Linked DNA regions of Homo sapiens: region 2 is linked to region 1. The links come from fine-mapping of genetic effects on gene expression. A gene starts in region 1. The other region holds a variant in brackets. All regions are shown on one strand. Distances are from middle to middle.

The links. PIP is the estimated chance that this variant, and not a neighbour inherited with it, causes the effect.
Region 2: its variant is fine-mapped to the expression of RAB20 in whole blood (INTERVAL, PIP above 0.99).

Annotation. Positions count from the first base shown.
Region 1 is chr13:110,556,433-110,568,936 of GRCh38, reverse strand. It overlaps RAB20 (RAB20, member RAS oncogene family), which reads left to right and starts at 7,215. Exons shown (of 2, transcript NM_017817.3): 1 at 7,215-7,589. The coding sequence starts at 7,418. RefSeq lists silencers at 7,086-7,535, 7,427-7,616, 7,596-7,655 and enhancers at 10,497-11,019, 11,020-11,543.
Region 2 is chr13:110,521,355-110,533,858 of GRCh38, reverse strand. RAB20 (RAB20, member RAS oncogene family) reads left to right here. Exons shown (of 2, transcript NM_017817.3): 2 at 9,662-10,793. The coding sequence ends at 10,194. Among named protein-coding and RNA genes, the nearest start is that of COL4A2-AS1, 19 kb to the right of the region's middle. RefSeq lists enhancers at 2,485-3,101, 7,578-7,647, 8,098-8,147, 9,092-9,231, 11,924-12,003 and a silencer at 6,103-6,397. The variant G/A (reference allele first, on the strand shown) is at 5,627.

The DNA.
Region 1 (12,504 bases):
CTTCAACAACAGATGTTTGTTTTCTCACCGTTCTGGAGGCTGGAAGTCCAAGATCAAGGTGTCGGCCGGGCTGGGTTCACCTTCCCACCCATGTGAGGCCTCACATGGCTGCCCCTTGGTCCATGTGTCTGTGTCCTAATTACTTCTTATAAAGACACCAGTCACATTAGATTAGGACTCTCTCCAGTGACCTAATTTTAACTTAATCACCCTTTCAAGGCCCCCTCTTCAAGCTCAGGCTCAGTGTGTGGTGCTGAGGGTTAGAGATTCAGCATGAATCTCAGGGGGACTCACTTCAGCCCTAAACACCTGTATTCTCTAAGACACTCGTGCCGTGAATAATAACATGGGCATTTGATTATGTTCTCTCCGTTTTTCACTATTTTTAAAAGATGTGTTTATTTCTTATAGTATTCCAAGCCCTGTGCTCAGTGCCGGGGTCGTAAAGAAAAGACAGACGCGCTTCCTCTCACAGAGGGGCTCAGAATTCCTTCAGGCACCACTCACTTTTGGGATGGGCAGAGCAGGCTAGTGCTGCAGAAGAACAGATTTTCTAAAACTGTTAAGCAATATATGAACATACAATTAAACATTATTCACGTCCCATTGAAATACTGAGGGTCACTGCTGTCTCACTGTCCATCATTACGGCTTTGGTGATTTTTAAGCAGGGGAAGTGGTTTCCACACGGTCTCCATTGACTTTCTCCCGCTTGTGAGTGGATGTTTATGGCTCATCATCTCTCTGCGAGTCAGTTTGCCCAGCAGCCCCATAAAGAGGACAGAGTCCTGGATCCCCCATTTTGATGATTTAAGTTCTTATATAAAATTATAGTTAAAATGTCAGTGAACCCAAAAATATTTTCTACGCTCCAAGCTGTCCTCGAGGCCATTATCAAGTCCCAGTTCCTAGTGCAGGATCCTCTCTCAGACCCCAGATGTGGGCTCAAGCCTCTAGCACTCGACCGGAGATAATAGCAGATGCTCTCCCCCCACCCCATTCCACCACCCCTTTGAATAAGATGGAATGTGCAGGCGACCTCCATGAACGAATGTCAGGGTGGGCAATGGCGTCAGGACCGTGCGAGTGCTTTCCTTATCTGTGGTTGTCATGCGTTCTACAGTTTGCTGTGCCTCATTATTGAATAGAGGTACAGAGAGGAATGTCTCTGTTGTCAGTTCGGTTTAACCTTTCTTGGGGGTGAAATATACATACGGAGGCTAAAGCAGCTCCACCTGGGACGCGATCTGCCGGGTTCACTTCTGACTAACCCCAGTTCTGGGAAGGCCTCTAGGATTTCCAGTTTATTGTTCCTTGAGTAAGAGCAGGTCCTCATTGTAAATCCTGTCCTTAGGTTGAAACAACCTTGATGTTATCGTCCTTCAATTCCCTTGCACATCCCCTCTGAGTCACCCTTTTGCTGTAGTACAGAAGGCCTGCGTCTGGCAGGTAAGGGTGCCCAAGACACAGACACGGCTTCTGTTCGCCAATCTTTATTAAATGTTTCTTTTCTTTTCTTTCTTGTTTGTTTTTTTTTTGAGATGGAGTTTCACTCTTGTTGCCCAGGCTGAAGTGCAATGGTGCAATCTGGGCTCACTGCAACCTCCACCTCCCAGGTTCAAGCGATTCTCCTGCCTCAGCCTCCTGAGTAGCTGGGATTACAGGTGTGCACCACCAGGCCCAGCTAATTTTTGTATTTTTAGTAGAGATGGGGTTTCACCATGTTGGCCAGGCTGGTCTCGAACTCCTGACTTCAGGTGATCCACCCACCTCAGCCTCCCAAAGTGCTGGGATACAGGCGTGAGTCTTCCCGCCTGGCCCTAAATGTTTCTTTCTAGGAAACTGGGTATGTCAGCCTCTTTATTCAGCCTGTCAGTTTCCTTGGCCTTTGGGGATAGGTTTGCACAGACCTAGCCACTGCAAAACCACACTAATATAAAATTCACCACTTTGGCCAGGCATGGTGGCTCACGCCTGTAATCCCAGCACTTTGGGAGGCCAAGACAGGTGTATCACTTGGGGCCAGGAGTTTGAGACCAGCTTGGCCAACATGGCAAAACCCCATCTCTACTAAAAATACAAAAATTAGCCAGGCGTGGTGGTGCACGCTCGTGGTCCCAGCTACTCAGGAGGCTGACACACAAGAATCGCTTGAATCGGGGAGGCAGAAGTTGCAGTGAGCCTAGATCGTGCCACTACACTCTAACCTGGATGACAACGTGAGACTTTGTCTTGAAAAAGAAAAAAATATATAAGATTGTCTTTATACCCAAAATCTACCTTTTTGAAGCTTGTAGTCACTTTTATTTCCATTTCTATACAATTCCATTAAATTAGTTTTGAAGACCTAGGATAATTTTTATGATAAACAGAAAATGAACCGAAGGAAGGCACCAGTATTGAATCAAACGAAAACAGTTTCTGAAATCTAAGAAGAAATGGTGCGGGCAGATTGTTGATGTAAGTCCTTACCTCATTCTAGCACTCGCTGAAATTCTATCTTTGTCGACATCCTGTTTAAAATGGAGCCCCCTGCCACCGCCTCAGCCTGCATTCCTCCCGTCTCCTCCTCCCTTTTCTTCATCTAGCGTTTAATCAACACCAAGGGTGCTATATCCTGTGTGTTGCTGTGTATTTTGTTGGCTCTTTCTCCCAGCAGGTGCTGAGGCCCAGGATGCTGTCAGTTTCCCTCACTGCTCTATTTCTGGGTTGGGACTTAAGAGTAGAATGGGCGCTTTTGCTCCTATCTGCTGAATGAGTACATAATAAATGGATAATACATTTTTTTTTTTTTTGAGCCAAAGTCTCGCTCTGACCACCAGGCTGGAGTGCAGTGGCATGACCTCGGCTCACTGTAACCTCTGCCTCCTGGATTCAAGCGATTCTCGTGCCTCAGCCTCCCAAGTAGCTGGGATTACAGGTGCCTACCATCACGCCCAGCTAATTTTTGTACTTTTAGTAGAGATGGGGTTTCACCATGTTGGCCAGGCTGGTCTCGAACTCCTGACCTCAGGTGATCCATCTGCCTCAGCCTCCCAAAGTGCTGGGATTGCAAGTGTGAGCCACCACACCCGGCCTATATTTTGTTTTTAAGAAAGGAGGAAAGTAGCTTAAAAGAGAGTTGTTCTACAACAAAGTGTCTAAAAATGCTCCTTAGCCATTTTGCAAAATCTAAGAGAAACAATCATATTTTCTTATTTCTTTAATGAGACTGTTAATGGTCACAGAATTTCTCAGTTTGCATCTCTTTTAAAAAAATGAACTACATAATTTTCTTGGCCTCACAGCACATTTCTTTGATGAAACTGGAAAATTAAGTACCCTGTTAAGCCAGTGGTTTAAACTAGACAGAATAAACATCTAACTTGGCCCTAAGCAGCTGGTTTAAATAGACCCTTAACCCTATACTACCTCCTTCCTCAACACTGCTTCCTGCAGGTGAATACGGTGATTTACAGCCTTTAAGACATTTTTATAAGGAGTGGCTGAAATTTGATATGGAGACATTCTCTTGGTTTAGTTTTCAAAGTGCTGGAAAATTCCTTTAACTTTTTCAACCAACTTGCTCGGTGAATTCCAGGTGCCAGTCACTGGGGTAGGTGCAGGGAACAGTCCCTCCCTCCACAAACTCTAAAAGCAGCAGTGTTTCAGGTGGTGTTTCAGTTCACTAGCGAATTTATTAAAATGTGTATTGATTGAGCATCAATTGCCTTCCAGGGCCAGGTACTTGGGAGACATAAGAGAAACAAAACACAAAGATTCCTGCCCTCATGAGGCTTCTTCAAACATTTACTGAGTAGAAGAATGTGCTGAGAAAGGGACAAGGCACTGGGTGAGGTGTTGAATGAGGTTAGGACCTGCTCCCTGACCCTAGGGAATTTTTAAATTACTAGAGATGATGAGAGTCAAATGAGTCCGTTAGTCATTGTCAGGGGCTAAACTGCATCGAAGAGGCCAGCAGGGTGGTAGAAACTCATATGAAGGAGCAGGAAAGGTCTCCCCAGAGGGAGAGGATTAGAAGGGGGTGTGCCTGGGCTGCACCTCATGGAATCCCTGAGTCCTGCACAGAATTCCAAACCTGCACAGATGAGGGGTTGGAGGGCTTTTCAAGTGGGCAAACTCAGTGAGCAATGAAGTGGAGAATAGCTGGTCATGATATGCTTACAGGATGTTGCTTCTGGCCTCACCAGGGAGGGGAATTCATTCATTCTTCTGCGACTCAGTGCCTTCTTCAGTGCCCATTGTGTGCTAGGTGCAGTGGTGTTCACCAGGCACAGTGGTGAACAACACAGAAGAAGCTGCTTCCCCATGGAGCTAACACCCTAGAGAAGGAAACTGCACCATCAAACCTGTAAATAAGCCACACACAGGGCAACAGGAGCTAAAGGAGGCGGGAGAGCTACTGTAAAAAGGGTGGTAAGTGTGTGTGTGTGTGTGTGGCGGGGGGCAGGATTTGGACTTGTGGAGATAGAAAGTAGGGAGCCGTGGCAGGTCTCTGGGTAGAGAAAGCAGTGGTTATGAAAGGTTAGTCTGACAGTGATTGGGACGGCAGGAGCTTGGAGTTAAGGAGACCAAATAGGAGTGGATTCTAACTATTTAGGTGTAAGAAGGTTCCAGACAAGTGGGCGTCTGTGGGAAAAGAGAGAGAAGATGTTAGAGGGATTTATTTAGAAGGGAAAATCCATTGGGCTTGGTGATGAATTGGATATGGTTATAAAGAAGGTGAAAGAATGAATGACTCTGCATTTACAGAAGGGCAGATGAACGATGTGGTGGGTTGCCATATTGAGACATCCATGTAGAAAGGCTTAGTAGGTGGATGAAGAAATGGACAAAGAGCTCAGGTGAGAGAAGCAGACAGGGGGTAAAATTTGGAGAATCAAAAAGCATGCTCCAGGAAGTGATTAAACTTCCTGATGGTAAAAAAGTAGAAAGAAGTGTAAAAATTCTAGGTGAGCCTTGAACACCCGCTGAATAAATGGAGAGGTATACCATGTTCATAAATGGGACATTTTAATATTATAAAGATATCCACTCTTCCTAAATTTAACTATATATGTCATTAATGTGTTTCCTGAGGTTAGATACATTGATTCCAGAATTCATATGGAAGTGTAAATGTTCCAGAATAGTCAAAGCAACTTTGGACTAGGACTACAGGTGCACACCACCATGCATGGCAAATTTTTTCTGTAATTTTCATAGAGACGGGGGTCTCCCTATGTTGCCAGGCTAATCTTGAACTCCTGGGCTCAAAGGATCCATCTGCCTCGGCCTCTCAGAGTGGTGGGATTACAGGTGTGTGCCACTGCGCCTGGCCAACAGGCACCAAACCTGACTCATGTTTGTGTCGTCCCAGGCCAGGCACTGTAGCTTGTGTGAAAATTGTCAGAATCGAAATGGAGCCGCTAATGTTAAGAAAACCCTGACAAACAGAGCCGGGGAAGGCCATGAAGAGAGGGTTCTTGCGCGTGCATGCCTGATAACAAAAAGGACTCTCTGGAAAAACCGCAACCTTGCACAAAGGCCACTGCAATCTCCCACAAAAAACTAGTCCTGCAAGGACATGGCCCAGCCACTGGCTGTCCTACTTTGAACTGGCATCGCCTTCGTTATGGATCTTTGTAGCCACAGATAATTATTTTCAAACAATTGTGCAATCCGCCTCATTTTTTTTAAAGCCTTTGCTTTCCTTGCCTCTCTGAATATGCACAAGTTTACCATGGCATGCATATTTCTACTGCAAAGCTCTATTGCAAAATAAATATCTGTTTCTTTTAGAGATCCTCTCTGTTATTTAGGTTGTCACTTGCATGCAACAGGCATTGAATAAATGCTGAATTGACTTAAATTTGTTCTGAGGATGAGGCAGTGCTGGCTGAGAAGGAGCCGGGGTCTCCTGGTGCGCTTTCCACGCCCCAGAAGGTCCGCTTCCACCTCAGCCCCACACTGCTCGGTCTCAGCAACCTGACATGCCAGGGCTGAGCAGGTACGAAATACCTTGGCATTCCTGCCTTGTCGGAGTCTCAGGGCACCTACGAAGGAGGCAACGGGCCTATTTCCCTTTACAGGACACCTTCAGGACACGGGTTTTAACCTGCTCAGGGTCTCATCGCCTTTCCCAGCCAGGCCAGCGGCCAGAGTGACACTGTCCCCCAGGGTTTAACTTAGAGTCCATTCTACCTCTCATTTTCTCTAAAAAACCCCAACCAACCAACTAACCAAATTCTACACGCTGCATATTTTAAAAGCATTTCAAGGTTTATCCTTTAAAACGGAAGGAGGACCTGGGAGGCCGAAGCGGGTGGATCACGAGGTCAGGAGTTCGAGACCAGCCTGGCCAACATGGTGAAACCCCGTGTCTACTAAAAATACAAAAATTAGCCGGGCATGGTGGCACATACCTGTAATCCCGCCTACTCGGGAGGCTGAGGCAGGAGAATCGCTTGAAACCGGAAGGCGGAGGTTGCAGTGAGCCGAGATCGCGCACTGCTCTCCAGCTTGGGCAACAACAGCAAAACTCCGTGTCAAAAATAAAAAAAAAAAAAAAAAAAGAAGGAGGAAATATTTCTCAAGTAGCGACTGCAACTTCCATAGTCAAATTTTCATTCCAAGCTATAAATGGAGATGACTGTCCACTTTTCAGGACAAAAAGCTTCTTGCAAAAGTAGAAGAGCAAAAGCAAAATCCTCCACTAGAAAGCGCCCCCATCTCTAATCTGTAACAGTGAGAGCCTCAGGACGAGTTCCGCAGACGCTCATTTAAAGCAAACTTTTTCAATGACCTTGAGGGTGGCTGTACTTACACGCGGAGAAGCAAATCGACCGCAGCTGGAAAGGCGCTGGGTCGAGCGTGAGAGGAACACGGGTTTTACCTAAGGGAGAGTGGAAGAGAGAAGGGGGTTCCCCAAGGGCCCCGGCCCCTTCGCCTCGTTCGGGCCCCGCGGCCAAGCTCCTCGCACCGCAGCCCCGGCTGTGCAGAAGCGGAGGGGCGGAAGGTGCTCTCAGAACTTTCATTTTCCACCCTGCAGCAGTCCCGAGCCTCGGCTGGAGAACTCGGATGCTTGCGAAACGGCGAGGTCCAGCAGGGGCGGGACGGGGGCGGTGGGCGGAGGAGGATAGGGCGGGGCCGCGGCGGTGAAAGGGCCCGGGGGCGGGGGCGGGGGCGGGGCGAGGCGAGGCCGCCGCGGTCCGGGCCCCCGACGTGGGCTCCGTGCTCTGCACCCAGCTCCTTCCCGGGCGCGCACACGCGCTTCCTCTCTTGAGCTCCCGGGCGTCCGGAGGCGAAGGTCCCGGAGCGTTCACGAGAATCCGGGTCCCGGCGAGTCCGGGGTCCGCTCCTCCAGCTGCGCCCAGGGCGCACGAGCCGGCCAGCCTCGGGGAGAGGGCGCGGGGGCGCTGGGGGTTCTTACGGGAAGATGAGGAAGCCCGACAGCAAGATCGTGCTCCTGGGGGACATGAACGTGGGGAAGACGTCGCTGCTGCAGCGGTATATGGAGCGGCGCTTCCCGGACACGGTCAGCACGGTGGGCGGCGCCTTCTACCTGAAGCAGTGGCGCTCCTACAACATCTCCATCTGGGACACCGCAGGTGAGGCCGGCGCCGCATGAGCCACACCGCCCTGGGGCTCCGCCGGGGACGGGGGGCGCGGGGCTTCCAGCAGGGCACCCGGCCGCGCACAGGGTCCCGGCCTCGGACAGCAAATGCCTCCTTCTCGGGGTTTCCCACTCGTCCTCCCTTGCTGGTTGGGCTGAGCGCTGCCTCTCAGCCACTCAGTGACCTCAGGGACAACCCAAGTTGCAGAGAACCCGCTGGTCATTTGTGTACCTAAGCTGCCTTTGCTCCCGAGCCCCGCGTTCCTGCTCTGCCGCCCTGGGAACCAGAGACGCTCCTCTGTGGCTGCTTTGTTAGGTATTTTCAGTTTTCACGTACCCGTAGGAACATGATATCCTTTGAGATTCACTTGAGGGGTGAGCAGAGCTGGTGTTATTAGCCCCTTTCTAAGAAAAAGTAAAATGAGGCACAGAGTGTTCCCCCCTGTTGGGTTTAGTCAGGAGAGAGGAAATAAAACTGGAGCCTCCGGACCTCTTAGCCCGGAGCATATCTGCCTTTTACAGTTAATCTTCTGCTTGATCTTGGCTCAGATACGTCATATGGGTTTGGGTTGGAGTGACTTCCGGTGGAAGCATTTTTAAGATAGGTAATGAGTTATTTTTATTGTGTAGTATTTGTGACTTTTCAAAAGTACAACTTAGAGGATCTCAATTCAGGCTTTCTGTTTAACTTTGGAAAATAACACTGGTGATTGTAGCATTGCAATGGAATATATTTCCTTCTCCTTACAAAAGAATAAGATATTGTAAGTGAATGAAGAAACTGGAAATAGTGTGACACATTTTCAATGAGTGTGAGTTTTTAGAAGCCTGAAACTCTGAAAGTTCTGACTTCTTTTATGTTAGCATCTTAAAAAGTCATATACCCAAAGGCCCCGTCCAGAATTCTTAAATTGCCATCTTGGGTGTATCAGTATGCTGAATAAACAAGATGATAATGAATTCTCTCTTTAAAACTGAATTAACGAAGCTCACAGAGGTACTTCCAGTTCTCCCCCTCCCTTTTGCCTTCTTTGATGCTTTTTTATTATTATCCCAGTTAACATCGTGACTAATTTATTGGCAATCATCTTGTGAAAACAATGTCCCCCAGGTAAAGAGGTGCATTTCCCTGATCTTTGCTCCAACTCTGTCTTCTGCCTCAGGCTGCAGGATGAGGTTTACTGAGCTGACTCCCTCACACTGAGCATTTGGTAACGATGGAACACACGCTCTAGAAGTCAAATCGAACCCAATTCACGAACCCAATTTGCTTCTGTACAAAGTCAAATTGAACCCAATTTGGTTTTGTACAAAGCTTTGCCCCTCTGCTGCTTTTGCTGGTTGGCTGGGATTTACTGCTGCCCTTGGTTTACAAGTAGCAAGGTTAATGCAGGAGTGTTATTGGGGGACCCTAACCGAAACCCCTGTAGTGGCCACCGTTGGAGGCAGACTCTTAACACACGGTGTGTTTCTGGAACAAGAGCTGCCCTGCAGTGCTGGAACGGCCCCTGCATCGGAGGGAATGAAGCAGCAGTTTCGTTTCCACTGGCCTCTTGCTTCTTCAGCACCAAGGACGTGATGCAGCCGGAATCCTGATCACCAGAGATTTTGCAGTTGTGCTGATGTGACGCCCCAGATGTCTTGAAGCGTTACTGGGGGGCAGCAGCTCATTTCCTGGCATCCGAGGCTGCTGCTGCTTGTTCGAAAGATCCTAAGGGTGAATTACTAGAGCTCCTCAGAACAGAGAGTGGCCAGGCCCCTTCTCCACATTCCTGACTTCCTGTGTACACACTCAGGCGGCCCTTGCCCAGAGTTGGCAGGGACACAGGGCACCCTTGCCTGCCTCCTCGGTGGCCTGTGGCCTGACCGGGTACTTGAAGGGAAAAGAGAGGTAGGAACAGATACCTTTTCTATAATTGTTGGAAATTCAGAATTTAACATTTAGGGGACCCTGTTCTTTTCCTTCTTTTGCTGAGCTCCTAAACTTTCTCTCCACCCCACAGACATTGCTTTTCAAGTTGTTTTTGTTGTAATTGTCATAACCGAGGCAGAATGGTAAGGACCAGCCGGAGGAGGAACCATTTTGAAAGTTGCTTTTAGCCACACAAGGCAGGGTGGGCTGGGGTGGGGGTGCAGGTGTGCAGAGGGCGACAGGATGTTTAATAGTAAAAACGATTGCATGGGGGTCAGTGTACACCCAATGCCTGGCTGCTTGTAGCCTGCAAGGCAGGCAGTGGATGGAGCTGAAGAGGGGGAAGAGAGTTGGCAGGGCAGAAGTACATTACCCTATTCCATTGACACAACAGTCCTCCAGAGGGAGGTGTGATTATTTGCATGTTAAAGATGGGGCCAGGCGTGGTGGCTCATGCCTGTAATCCCAGCACTTTGGGAGGCTGAGGTGGGTGGATCACGAGGTCAAGAGATCAAGACCATCCTGGCTAACATGGTGAAACCCCATCTCTACTAAACATACAAAAGTTAGCAGGGCGTGGTGGCGCACACCTGTAGTCCCAGCTACTCGGGAGGCTGAGGCAGGAGAATCGCTTGAACCAGGAGGCAGAGGTTGCAGTGAGCCAAGATTGTGCCACTGCACTCCAACCCGGTGACAGAGCGAGACTCTGTCTCAAAAAAAAAAAAAAAAAAAAAAACAGATGGGAAGACAGGGCTGCGCGGTGGCTCATGCCTGTAATCCCAGCACTTTAGGAGGGTGAGGCGGGCAGATCACCTAAGGTCAGGAGTTCAAGACCAGCCTGGTTAATGTGGTGAACCCGTGTCTACTAAAAATACAAAAATTAGCTGGGTGTGGTGGCTGGCGCCTGTAATCCTAGCTACTTGGGAGGCTGTGGCAGGAGAATCGCTTGAACCCTGGAGGCGGAGGTTGCAGTGAGCCAAGATTGCGCCATTGCACTCCAGCCTGGGTGACAAGAGTAAGACTCTGTCTCAAAAAAAAAAAAAAAAAAAAGTGGGAAGACAGCAGAAGTTAAGTGGGATTTAGACCTTGGTTCATCCAACTCCAACTCACCTTGTCTCATTATGCCCTTTTAGGGGGCACTTGCCACTCCCAGCCCTTGTCTAATTGGGCACACAGATGTGGAGTGGTTGCTGTGCATGGGTGGGTACATCCAGGAAGCAAAAGGAGGTTGCCCAGCGAGGAGGCAGAGCCCTAGAAGACGTACTGCTGTGCTCCTCTGTGTTGCCCGGTTGCTCAGGACAGCCTAAAGTGGTGTTGCCTGTTGTTGGCAAATATAAACTGAGGCTCCCCGGTGCCGGGCACTGTTTGGGCCCTCGTTCTACAGCAGTGAGCAGGCCGGCTGGCCGCTGCCCCGCAGGCCCTGGATTCCAGAGGAGGGGGAAAGGCAGGCAAGAAGTGAATGGTACAGCTTCACATCTGATCGTTGCTCTGAAGAAAATACGACAGGCTGATGAGAAAGCGGCTGGTGTGCCCAGCACAGACCTGGTCCCCAGAGCCCTGGAGACAGAATGCTCTCCACATTTGTTTTCCTTCCCTTCTAAAGGCCGTGGCCTGGCGGCCGGGAGGCGGGGGGAGCAGGGGCATTACCTGACTCACGTTTGCATCCCCAGCACCTGGCCCTTGAAGAGCCAGCTTGGAAGGCGGCGGGGAGCCCAGACTTGCGCCACTTCCCTGTGCCGGCATCCAGCTCCAGCTGCGTCTCTGGGGACTGGGTGTTGGAGAGAGTGAGTGCATTTTGCATGTGGAATGGATGCACGTCTGTGGGAGCCTGAAGCCAGGCTGTGACAGACAGAATAGTGGCCACCGCAAAGATGAGACATCTTGGTCTCTTGAGAGTCCTCTGGCCTTTGGGTCCTTCTGAGGCACCAGCAGAAGGTTATGTGGCCACACCAGGGCCTCCTCTCCAGCACAGGCGTTCCGGATGGTGGGCCTCCTAGTGTGAGCCTCCCAGCAATCTGCCTGACTGAGGACTTCCCACATCACCAAGTCCTGCTCCTCTTTGTTCGACAATTCTTCCCTCATCCTATCTGTTCTTCCTCATCTTAATATAAACAGCAAGAAAAATCCACACCTTCAACACTTTGCTTGGAAATCTCCTCAGCTACATATCCAACTTCATCACACAGTGATGCTTCCCTCACAGCTGTGGGGCACGACTCAGCTGAGCTCTCTGGCACCACATCCTCCCTCCTCCAGCTTCTGATAACACAGTCCTCATTCAGACCCCAGGCTTCCACCTGTAATTGGCTCCTTCTGGTGGAGGTGTTCACTACGAGGATGCAGGTTTTCTCTGCTATGCTTCTCGCTTCCTTCTGATTCCTCACCAGCAGGGCTGTTCATGTGCACCTTCCTGCCAACCATCTGTTTAGGCCAATCCGGGCTGCCCTCTCATGATCCTCAGATCCTCCCAGATCTGCCATTGCCCAGTTCTAAAGCCACTTCCATATTCGTGACAGCCTCTCTCTGCTCCCAGTTCCAAAGTCTGTGTCAGTTTCCTATTGCTGCTATAACAAATTAGTTACTTAAAACAACACAAATTTGCTGGGCATGGTAGCTCCTGCCTGTAATCCCAGCATTTTAGGAGGCTGAAGTGAAAGGATCACCTGAACCTAGGAGTTCAAGACCAGCCTGGGCAACACAGGGAGACGGTTTCTACAAAGAATAAAGAAGTTAGCCAGGTGTAGTGGTGCGCACCTGTAGTCCCAGCTACTTGGGAGGCTGAGGTAAGAGGATTTCTTGAGCCTGGGAGGTTGAGGCTGCAGTGAGCCATGATCATACCACTGCACTCCAGCCTGGGCAACAGAGTAAGACCCTGTCTCAAATGAATAAATAAATAAAAATTAAAACCATAGATATATTGTCTTTAAGTAGTCTGGAGGTCAGAAGTCCCAAATGAGTCTCTCACTGGGCTAAAGTCAAAGCTTGCAGGATTGCATTC
Region 2 (12,504 bases), 35 kb after region 1:
TGGCTCCAGGCAGCCCAGCTCCATTCATGCACCCAGGGACTCTTGTGGGCCTTCCTTACTGCACTAAAATCAACAAACAATTGAATACAGTGTTGGTTATAGTAGTCAATTATTTATTCTTTTCTAATGCTCCTGAGGGGATGGTTGCTTCCACATCCCATTCTCTCTTTTTGAGATAGGGTCTTGCTCTGCTGCCCGGGCTAGAGTGCAGTGGCAGTATCCCAGCTCACTGCAGCCCAACCTCCTGGGCTTAAGCGATCCTCCTGCCTCAGCCTCCTCAGAGTAGCTGGGACTACAGGCACATACCATCATACCCAGCTCATTTTTAAATTTTTTTTTGTAGAGATAGGGACTCACTGTGTCACCCAGGCTGGTCTCAAACTCAGGGGCTCAAGGGATCCTCCCACATCAGCCTTCTGAAGTGCTAGGATTACAGGTATGAACCACTGTGCCTGGCCTCCACGCACCATTATTTAACCAAGTTCACTATCGGTTTTAAAAAAACAAACCTAGAGGGAATGTAGATCATGCCTGTGGAGATGGTCCCATGACTCTCAACTTTAGCCAAAACTCATCAACTTTACAAAATAGAACTAAAATAACCTTTTGGCTCGTATTTGTGGATGCAACCTGCAAACACTGGAGAAAGCATGTCGTGGTGTTTTTGAACAATCTCTGATGGGAAGTGTGTCACAGCTCCTCTAGGCTGCGCTGCTGCTGGTGCCATTGCTGGAGTTGCTTATTTTGCTCCCATCTCTGGTCTGGGAATATGCACTTTTCCTTTCCTCAGGTTGTCACATCGATGTTTTGTGAGCTCCCTGCCAGGGGGCTGTCCGATCTGGCAAGGCAGAGAACTCATCTTAAAAGTTTCTGTTCTCCGCTGGGCACAGTGGCTCATGCCTGTGACCCCAGCACTTTGGGAGGCCAAGTTGGGAATATAGCATGAACCCAGGAGTTCAAGACCAGCCTGGGTAGCATAGTAAGTCCCCATCTCTACACAAACATAAAAGAAATTAGCTGGGTGTAGTGGTATGCACCTGTGGTCCCAGCTACTCGGGAGGCTGAGTTGGGAGGAACACTTAAGCCCAGAAGATGGAGGCTGCATTGAGCCATGATCGTACCACTGCACTTCAGCCTGGGTGACAGAGCAAGACTCTGTCTCAAAAAAATAATAATTAAATAGGCTGGGCGTGGTGCCTCGCGCCTGTAATCCCAGCATTTTGGGAGTCCAAGGTGGGTGGATCACTTGAGGTCAGGAGTTTGAGACCAGCCTGGCCAACATGGTGAAACCCTGTCCCTACTAATAGTACAAAAATTAGCTGGGCTTGGTGGTGTGTGCCTGTAATCCCAGCTACTAGGGAGGCTTAGGCAGGAGAATTGCTTGAACCCTGGACGTGGAGTTTGCAGTGAGCTGAGATTGCATCACTGCACTCCAGCCTGGGCAACAGAGCAAGACTCTGTCTCAAGAAAAAGTAAATAAATAAATAATGAAAGTTCCTGTTGTCTCAGTGTTTGCATTTCCTGGTAGGGCTCACTTTTCAATGAATTGAAATACCAAGCTTTCTAATTCTTACATTTCAATAGCTGCCCTTTTATTTCCCACTTTCACTGGGTAAATTGCTGATTTTCACTCCTGGTGCACCTGGTATTCACCTGGGGCGCTTTTAAAGCTGATACAAATGCCAGCCCCACTCTTGCCCTGGCAGCTGGGTCAGGGTCTGAGCATCAGTATTTTTTAAGTCTCCCCACCCCATGCTTAAGATGTGAGCCAAGGGTGTCCGTGGCTTCTGATGGCTATCTCAACCCACTCTTATTTAAACCAATAGTGAAAACGACACAACACTTGGGGTAGAAGCCTGGCTGTGTTTGGCTTTGGGAAGGCTGAAGAGTGAAATGGAAAGCACTTGGGCAGTTTTTGGTTCCGCAACAGTGAATCAGGATTACTGTGGGTGCTGACTTCCCTTCCCCTTCTGCCTGAACCCTGGGCCATGTCAGCTCCACTGATCTGGCAACATCCGGAGCACCCCCAGGACCAGGGAGAAGGTCATCATCTGAGAATAAGAAACGTAGAAGATTGGTCCACTGCAAAAGCGCCCAGTCGGCCCCAGGAGGTGGTGTGTAAATGGAGGGATGATGAGACCCGGGACATGGGCAGCCCTGGGACGGTGGCATCCATCCTTAGGTTTGGGAGGAATCTCACGATTTATGGAACAAGCACTTCTATTACAGGGCCTAATGTGCTGGGTGCAGCTCCAGCCAGTTCACCTGTGTGCAGATTCTGCTTTCTCAGCCACCCTTTGGCAGGTGTAACCCACATTTTAGTGACGGGGAAACTGAGGTACCGCATGTCTAAGTGACTTGCCCAAGGTCACACGGTGGGGATTTGAATGTAGTCTGTCTCTAGAGTGGGGGCTGTTTACCAGAACGCTCTGCAGTCCCTGCCCAGCGAATTAGCCGGCACTTCCAGGATAGTTCTCTGCGTAAAATTTGGAGCTCCTGGGAAGGTGGCTGCATTCTGCAAATGCCTGTGCTCTGTGGGATCACAGGGTGGAGGCAGGCTTTTCTCCTGCCCAGCAGCCCACCTCAAAGGGGCCCTAGGCCCCTTCCTCTGCCTCTGGGGGTGGTTAGACCAGACTCCCTGGGGTGCCTGTTGCCAGCGTGCTTCTCAGGGCTCCACCGCTCCTGTGTCTGTTGCCCACCTCCTTCTCCATCTGTGCCTCAGTTCCTCCTCCTGTAAAACATGGGAAAGGGAAGCCTGCACGAGCATAATAAACCCTGAGGACTCACACTGTGCTGGCCATGCTTCTTCCCATAGCTAATGCAGCGCTTCCTATCCTTGATACAGGACGGGATCGTGGAAGTTAACAGCTCATTCCCTGCTATAAATTACGAAGTCCTGTTCTGGCTTCCATTTCTCTTGTTTAGACAGAACTTAAACCTCATAAAGTGAGTGGAATTAGCTCTTTAGGTGAACAGACACAATTGTGTTTTTAGATCTGTAAATTCGAGAAACAAACCTGGTGGGACCTGCCTCCTGAGGGCCCTGTGTCTGTGTAGAGGTGGGGTGGGTGGGACCTACTTCCCCAGGGTCCTGTGTCTGTGTAGAGGTGGAGCGGGTGGGACCTACTTCCCTAGGGCCCTGTGTCTGCGTAGAGGTGGGGCGGGTGGGACCTACTTCCCCAGGGTCCTGTGTCTGTGTAGAGGTGGGGCGGGTGGGACCTACTTCCCCAGGGTCCTGTGTCTGTAGAGGTGGGGCGGGTGGGACCTACTTCCCCAGGGTCCTGTGTCTGTGTAGAGGTGGGGCGGGTGGGACCTACTTCCCCAGGGTCCTGTGTCTGTGTAGAGGTGGGGCGGGTGGGACCTACTTCCCCAGGGTCCTGTGTCTGTGTAGAGGTGGGGCGGGTGGGACCTACTTCCCTAGGGCCCTGTGTCTGCGTAGAGGTGGGGCGGGTGGGACCTGCCTCCCCGGGGCCCTGTGTCTGCGTAGAGGTGGGGCGGGTGGGACCTGCCTCCCCGGGGCCCTGTGTCTGCGTAGAGGTGGGGCGGGTGGGACCTGCCTCCCCGGGGCCCTGTGTCTGCGTAGAGGTGGGGCGGGTGGGACCTGCCTCCCCGGGGCCCTGTGTCTGCGTAGAGGTGGGGCGGGTGGGACCTGCCTCCCCGGGGCCCTGTGTCTGTGTAGAGGTGGGGTGGTGGGACCTGCCTCCCCGGGGCCCTGTGTCTGTGTAGAGGTGGGGTGGTGGGACCTGCCTCCCCAGGGCCCTGTCTGCAGTGAGCAGGGCGTCTTCATTTCTGGCTGCTCTGAACTCACGGTTAAAGTCCTGGTCAGTTTTGCTGCATTTCAGTAGTTTGTCCAACAGTGTGGCTGATCAGACATTGGAGGCGTTCTTACAGATTCAGGTTTCCCTCACCACCAGGGGTAATTGACCTCTTCGTCTGTATGTGTTGGTGACATAAAGCTGAGCAGATCACTTACGGATTTGCTACATAGACGAGTAATAATTCCTGGACAAGTCGAACCTAGAGCCCCAGGCTCCGGTCACTCACCCATCCTCCCGTCTGCTTGGCCTGGAGACAGCCCAGGCAAAAAGGCGGGAGAGTCTGGCGGAAGGCTGGGCTCCTTCCTCAGGCTTGAACCCGTGCCCCCAGCCCTGATGATGTCAGGCCCGTGTTGGTAGTGGCCACACAGGCTCGGCAGCCTGGCTCCGTTCACCAGACCAGGGTTGGCAGCTCACTGACCCTTGGCTGCATTGGTTGAATTTGAACCAATTTGTGATTTTTCTCTTTTGCCCTGTTTCTGGGGCAGCCTGGGGCTCTGGCATCCCCAGAATTGGACCTGAGGCTGTTTATTTCTCCAGGAAAGTCCAGGTAAACCACCAGAACTCTCAGTGCTTTGGCTTCACGATTGGTACTGACGGACTCCGGTCTGGGGGAGAAGGCAATAGAGATAGAGATGCCTGATCCTGTTTCCAGGGAGAGGGACTTTGAAGTACTCAGTTTAAGCCCATACTTGTAGACAGGAAATCAATATTCTGAGAGATACAGGGGCTGACATGTGTATGGGGTTGGCAGCAGGGGGCTGACGGCCCGGCTCAGAGCACATTCACAAACTTCCAGAAAACGCGTGAGGGTCCTTGGATTCAAATACACTGTGAATCTGTCAAAGCCAAGTGCAAAAGGTCAAGTTGTAGTGACACCATTTTATTTTCATTGTCTTATGTTCACTCTCATGCCTTACATACCAGAGCCCCTACTCAAATTCAATTAGGATTAAATTCAGAACTTCTGTTCCCTGCGGGACTGGCCCTTCTTGGTGTGGACAATGCGCTCATTGAGAGCAGCCTGACTCTTCCATTAGCAATCCTAAAAGCTATACATTATCTCCAAAGCAGTATTTTAGAATTTCAAATATGAAAACTGCTTGCTTGTAAATTCTTTAGCTGGGGCAACTGCATTTAATTGGTTTGCATTCATTAATGGGTAGATAACAGATTATAGGGTTCAAGCAACAATTCTTACTTTTTTCTGGCTAGCATTTGTGATTCTTCAGTTCCTGTTTCCTTTCATTACTAAGATCTTTCCTTTTATATTATTATTTCCTTTTTTAGTTTTTTAAAGGCAAATCAGGCATTTTTATCTGGAATGGAAAACTATTTTAGGCATAGGCATCAACACGGTTCTCCCTTTGGCCCTAGTGAACTATGTAACAGAGACTTGAAAACCATTCTTCCAGGGTAGCTGGAGTGCCCCTGACTCCGCATTCCCATAGTCACACTCTTGTGAAATCTGGTGGGTAGAAGCTGATGACGTTTTTAGCTCATGTAAAAACCTCATGATGCCTGGACTGTTATCTATGGGATTAGTGTCCCTGAAACAAAAGTCTTAGTACTGTGGTAATGACGAAGAAGCATTTTTCTTTCTTTTCTGTTTTTTGTTTTTTTTTTTTTTGAGATGGAGTTTCACTCTTGCCCAGGCTGGAGTGCAGTGGCGCTATCTCAGCTCACCGCAACCTCCGCCTCCCAGGTTCAAGCAGTTCTCCTGCCTCAGCCTCCCAAGTAGCTGGGATTATAGGCACATGCCACCATGCCTGGCTAATTTTGTATTTTTAGTAGAGATGGGTTTTCTCTGC[G/A]TTGGTCAGGCTGGTCTCGAACTCCCGAACTCAGGTGATCCGCCCACCCCGGCGTCCCAAAGTGCTGGGATTCCAGGCATGAGTCTCCGGCCTTTTTCTTTCCTTTATTATTACCATTTTAAATTTATTTTAGATATGGGGTCTCACTGTTGCTCAGGCTGGAGTGCAGTGGCATGATCATAGCTTATTGCAGCCTCGAACTCCTTGGCTCAAGCAGTCTTCCCTCCTCAGCCTCCCGAGTAGCTGGGACTACAGGCATGCGTCACCATGCCTGGCTAATTAAAGTGTATGTGTGTGTGTGTGTGTGTGTGTGTGTGTGTGTGTGTGTGTGTATTTGTAGAGATAGGAGCCTTGCTATGCTGCCCAAGCTGGGCTCCAACTCCTGGCCTCAAGCAATCCTCCTGCCCTAGCCTGTTCTTTTTGAAGCTAATGCCTGCTGTATTGGGTTTTAAAGGCTTTTGATCATCATCTTCTGTAGTGGGAGAATGACTGTGGATTCCGGGGACACTGTCTGATTTCTGCCTGCTGGGGTCCAGTCCAGCTTGACTGGAAACGGATTGACTTCTCAGTCTGAAGCTGACCCCTGGTAGGCGTGCGGAAGGGAGGAATGTTGCCCTTCAGGTGCTGAATTCCAGAGCACAAGCTGCTTGCCAACAGGGTGGCTCTGTCGCCCAAACAACAGCATTCCCAGGCTGGCTTTTCCCAGAAGAGGGAGGTGACCCGGGTAGCTCTCGCACTTTGACCCTCAGACTGGCAGCAGGGCACATTCTTCTGACTCCTACCGGAGCTGGTCTGGGCTCAGCTCCCAGCTCGCTTTCCCTCCACATCCCCAAAGGGCACACTGTCGGCTTTGCTGAAGGGGGAGCTGGAGTCCACGCTCGGGGCCTGGGAGACCACAGTGGTCAGTAGACAGGTCTGTCTGGCTCTTCTCACAGGACATGAGTGTGTGTCTCTGTGGGCGCCTCTCTCCAGGGTTGCCCAAGGGGTGACCAGCCTGCCTCAAAATCCAGGCAGCATCGCCCAGCAAGGTTTGAGGACTTGGCGTCATCAGAATGTGTGGCCATTTCAGAAAGATTGGGGATGGGAATGGGATGAAATTTGGTTGTGCTTCTTGGCTATTTGGCTCTAAACAGTGGTTTATTGGCAAAGGACAGTCTGCCTTAGAGAGCCACATGTGTGCAGGTGTCATGCGTTCAGTCCATGCTCCAAAGCCCCACAGACCAAGGGGCCTTAACTTCATTTGTGTCAAGACCCCTCGGCCCCCGAGGGGTACAAGCCCAGGACCCCTTCTCAGAACACTATGCCCAAGTGCGTGCAGTCACATACAAAGGTAACCAGCTGTCCTTAAGTACAGTCGTCTTGAGCCTTTTTAAATTATGATTGATATGTGGTTCATGGTCCACATATTAATGAATGAAGGCATGGCAGGTCTGAAGGGTCGTGGGCATCACGCTGGAGTGTCTGAGGCATCTGGCATGCGGATGGAAGCACCTGCTGGCCCTGTTGGTGATGAGTGCCCCTTACTGCCATTTCTGCAGTTTGCTGCCAATATTTGTGGTGAAAGGAAATGGTAAATTTCAGGTAGAGGGTGGTGAAAACAAAGATGATGTTTTCTCCCTCATTCAAGGTCATGGACCCTGTGAATTTGGTTTATGACCCCAGTGGTTAAGAGCCCTTGCTAGTGGTCGACACTGTCCACACACTCAGGGGAAGTTGCCCTCAGAGTGACATGGGACCATTTATAATTTAGAAGCTGCCAATGATGGGCCACTGTTGCATTTTGGTTTGCCTAAATGTGATCTTTAGAAAATTTTGAATTAGTTTTGAGTGCTTAAAACTTGGGAGATTAAAATCCACATTGTTAGCTTCTTTTTAAAAAATCAGAACCAGGCTTACTTCTCCCAGGCGAGGGATTGGAATGGGGCCTGGACACTCCCTGGGTGCCACCTCTCTCTGCGCCAGTGCCCCAGCAGCCTCATCCTTGTTCAGAGGCACTTGACCTTGGCGTTCTGAGCTCGAGAGTGGAGGCCAGTGCTGTCAGTCGTTCCCAGCTCTCCCTCCTCTTGGCCTAAGGGCATGGCCCGGGAGGCCACACATGCCCCAGGGAGGAGGGGATGAGCTGGCCTGCAGCAGGTGCTATGGGAGCTTCCAGGCCTGTCTGCAGAGGCTCCTTGGGATGGCGTCTGAGCACAGGTCTCAGTCTCATTCCTCTTCGAAAGCGTGCCCCCGGCAGGTGTGGTTGGGAGCAGGTGCTTTGTGGTTGGAAGATCTCACTTGGGGTTTGCTTGTTGGTGATTGAAACAAATGCATCACCAGGAGCGTCTGTGAAGCCCCTTCCTGCCAGCAGGGAGGGCCCATGCCATGCACAGCCTGCTCGGTCCTCGAGAGGCAGGTGGGGGCCAAGGTGCATGCTGCTGCCTCTCCCACAGCTGCTTCCTGAGAGCTCGTCCCCCCAGTGCGGCAGATGTGTCCAACGATGAAAAGCACGCCAAGGCTGGGAGGACATACCAGCAGGCGTGCTCGGCTCGGCCCTCCCTGCTGGGGGCTCTCACCTGCTGCGTGCACTGCACCTGTCCCAGGAACACCTGCCTTGGCCAGATCTGCTCCCCTTGTGGGAGTCTGTCCTCCACATCTGAGTATGCAGAAAGCTTGTGCTACAGACAGGGGTTCAGAATTCTGCCAGAAAGTTCCTAGGTAGCCCTTGAGTGGACTGGCAGGGAGCCGCCTGCTGGTGGGGAGGTGAGCGGGCCCCCTTGGGGATCTGTGCACTGTTGGTGGGATAGAAAGGTGGTCCTGGGGCAGACGTTGGGAACAGAACAGTACGGATGTGCAGGTGTTACCTGTGGGGAGTGTATTCTGACCCGGGTTGATTTGATTAGATGACTGCATTGTAAAAGTACACAGAGCTGGGGACCTTTTAATCTTCCTTTTTAGCCATCAGTTCGGGGGTCTCTGCGTTTAAATGTAGGACGGTGGCGGGTGTTCCAGTGCCCTGGCCCAGCCTCCCTCTAGCGCTGCTATGCCTGACTCCCCCACACTTCAGTTTCCTCATGGAAAGTGTGTGTGCCCACATCGACCTCGTGAGGCTGAAGTGCTGGGGGCACGGGGAGAGCAGATGCCCACACTCCAGGCACTGCAGGGGTGCATGCCAGCTGGCCCTGTTCCCCGCCAGACCCAGTGACAGACAGCACCTTGTCAGTAGCCAATGTGTTGACGTTGAGCTGTGTCCCGAGGGTTTGATCTCAACCTGGAAATGTTTTGGGAGCAGGTTCCCGGCTTGCCTGCAATTGCCCGCACCTCTGTCTGTTTTAAACCTGGAGGGCAGGCGGGGCTGCGGCACCCACAAGAAGTGCGAATGCTGGGGCCTGGCTCCTCAGGGATTCCGATTCCAGCGTGGGAGGGGAGATGTCCACTGTGTCCTAAAAATATCGTGAGCACCGCAGGGTGCTGTGTGATTCTGGGCAGATAAGGGCAGGTGTGGTTTACAACTGCTGTTATGAACTCAGAAGCCCTCCCCGCAGCACTTCCTGGGCAGGGCAGCACAGGGCAGCTGGGAGCACCCAGGGGGTGTAAAGGAGGAGGGTGAAGGGACATGGGCACACTTTGCTTCCGGAGTCTGCATTCCCGAGTCAGCTTCTATCTCAGCAAGGGCCTTGGCAGTCGCTGCTTTTTTCTGGACATCAGTTCTTGATTCCTTCCATCTCCAGCCATGGCTGGGGCCAGGACTCCTTTGGAGTTGGTGCTTGAAGGCAGGGAGGGCTGTGTGAATGCCTGAGGCCCGTTCTTCCTGAACATTCTTGGATTCTGTTTCCCATCTAGTCTGGGCACCCAACAGCTTGTTTTCTCGAGGGGCTGCCTGCTTTGGGGATGGTGCCCATGGGTGGCACATTCTCCATCAACTATGTTTAAGCATTTCATCCTGTGTGTGTTGCCCTAAAAATAAACATCCCTGTGGGACGTTCCCTTGCAGTGTGGCTGGTGGCTATGTTCTGAGATGAGAGATAACCACTCTTTCTGTCCCTCTCTTCCCACCAGGGCGGGAGCAGTTCCACGGCCTGGGCTCCATGTACTGCCGGGGGGCGGCCGCCATCATCCTCACCTATGATGTGAATCACCGGCAGAGCCTGGTGGAGCTGGAGGACCGGTTCCTGGGCCTGACAGACACAGCCAGCAAAGACTGCCTCTTTGCCATCGTGGGGAACAAAGTGGACCTCACTGAGGAGGGGGCCTTGGCGGGCCAGGAGAAGGAAGAGTGCAGTCCCAATATGGACGCTGGGGACCGTGTCTCCCCAAGGGCACCTAAGCAGGTGCAGCTGGAGGATGCGGTGGCCCTTTATAAAAAGATCCTCAAGTACAAGATGCTGGATGAGCAGGATGTGCCGGCCGCTGAGCAAATGTGCTTTGAGACCAGCGCCAAGACCGGCTACAATGTGGACCTCCTGTTTGAGACCCTCTTTGACCTGGTGGTGCCAATGATCTTACAGCAGAGAGCTGAGAGGCCGTCACACACAGTGGATATATCCAGTCATAAGCCACCCAAGAGGACCAGATCTGGGTGTTGTGCCTGACTTTCGAGGGCCTCCTGGACTCAGACTGTGCATGTTGGGAAGGGGTCTGACCAGGCAAGCTGTGATCTGAAAGGAGCAAGGAACAGCAAGGAATTATTTTCCAGAATGACACCCGCAGCAGAATGTTGGAGTGGAAATGATGGCTGGCTATGAAGAGGAGGTCAACGTGTGTGGTCTCCTCAGTCTCTGTCAGAGGGGTGGGGAGGTGGGAAACAGGAATCCTCTGCAAAGCCCAATCTGCAGAGTCGAGACCCCTGGTGCTCTCTGCCCCGCTGCCTGGCACTGGTCCTTTGCAGCCAGCCACCAACGGCCCCCTTGCCCTTGCAGAGGCAGAAGCCTGCGTCTGCACCTGCACCTCTGACCGTTTCAGCACCCTGGGTTGTTACCACGTCCTACAACTCTGACATTTCTTGTTCTCAAGCGTTTCTCTTCACTGTGAGTTGTCTTTGGTCCTCCCACTTGGTACTTGTATCTTGATGCTTTATAATCCTGACTCTCGACGTGTTCATTTATACAAAATCAGGAATAACTTTGTTTTTATACTGATTGCAGCAATGTTGGCTACATGTATTATTAAAGAGGATTTTTGGAACAACTTAGGTATTGAGACTGAACTGACTTCATTTGCACCCCCAGTCCCAGGGACTCTCTGTGGGGTAGGGTGGGGGGCGCTGGGGAGATGGCTGTGAACTTGAGATACGTCTCTCTTTGTGCGGAAGCTCTGTGAAATCCTTACCAATTGCAGAATATTTAGATTGGCCCATCTGTCTAGTTTTCTTGATGACTTGAATTCCAATAATAGTAGCAAAGCTTAAAGCTCTGGTTCTGCTGAAGTCTGGGGCATCTGAGCACCCAGGTCTCTGAGTCAGAAACCCCCTTCGGGTCTGCTGCTGCTGGCCGTGGGGTGGCTGCTTTATTGGAAGATGTCAGACAGAGGTGCCAGGAGACAGCAGATTTGTTTTCCCAGAAATGTGACTGAACGAAAGCAGGCTGGGGTCGGGGCTGTTTGTTGGGAGGCAATGTGGGGCAGATGGCACTGGGCAGTGGGTTTCATAAGTGCTGTTTTCTTTCTTTTTTTTTTTTTTTTTTGTGATAGGGTCTTGCTCTGTCACCAGGTTGGAGTGCAGTGGCGTGATCTTAGCTCACTGCAGACTGTACCTCCGGGTTCAAGCAATCCTCCCGACTCAGCCTCCCAACATGCTGGGATTACAGGCATGTGCCACCATGCCCCAATAATTTTTTTTTTTTTGGTAGAGTTGGGGTTTTGCCATGTTGCCCAGGCTGGTCTCAAACCCTTGAACTCAAGCAATCCTCCCTACTCAGCCTCCCAACATGCTGGGATTACAGGGTGCTCTGTTTTCTGGGGAGCTGTTCATAATTTGCTGAAGGCCTGTGCTCTCCGGTTTCTGGGCTGCTGCAGGCCTAACTTCTCCGCTCCTGTGGAGTGAGTGCTTTCAGGCAAGGAAGGGAGCTTGAACCCCAGGAGGAAGCACTGAGGCAACCCCTGCGATTGCAGGTCCTCAGCTCCCCTGAGATGTGGTTTCGGAGTTTAAAACTTCAGTTTCGCAACAGCAGCCCATTGAGAAGTGAACGCAAATCAGCCTGACTCGTGACTTTTTATTGACTTGGTTGAATATACCACTGTAGGGACAGAAGTTATATTTATTTTCTATAATGTGTATCTTTGCTAGTGACCCATCTAGGAAATAGGCTAATCAAAGAGACCTTGGAATCTTTTTTTTTTTTTTTTTTGAGACAGAGTCTCACTCTGTTGCCCAGGCTGGAGTGCAGTAGCACAATCTCAGCTCACTCACTGCAGCCTCGAACTCCTGAACACAAGTGATCCACCCACCTCAGTCACCCGAGTAGCTGGGACTACAGGGGTGTGTCAGTATGCCTAGCTAATTTTTTATTTTTATTTTTTGTAGAGATGAGGTCTTGCTGTGTTTCCCAGGCTGGTCTGGAACTCCTGGGCTCACGCAATCCTCCTGCCTCAGCCTCCCAAAGTGCGGGGATCATAAGCATGAGCTCTGGCCCTGGCCAGAGTCTTTCTTTGAAGGCTGTGAAGGGAGAGAAAGTATCATATGGCACTGTTTTTGCAGTTGGTGCTTGAAGGCAGGGAGGGCTGTATGAATGCCTGAGGCCCGTTCTTCCTGAACAGTCTTGGATTCGATTTCCCATCTGCTCCGGGCACCCAACAGCTTGTTTCCTCGAGTGGCCGCGTGCTCCGGGGATGGTGCCCATGGGTGGCACATTCTCCATCAACTCTGTTTAAGCATTTCATCCTATATGTGTTGTCCTAAAAATAAG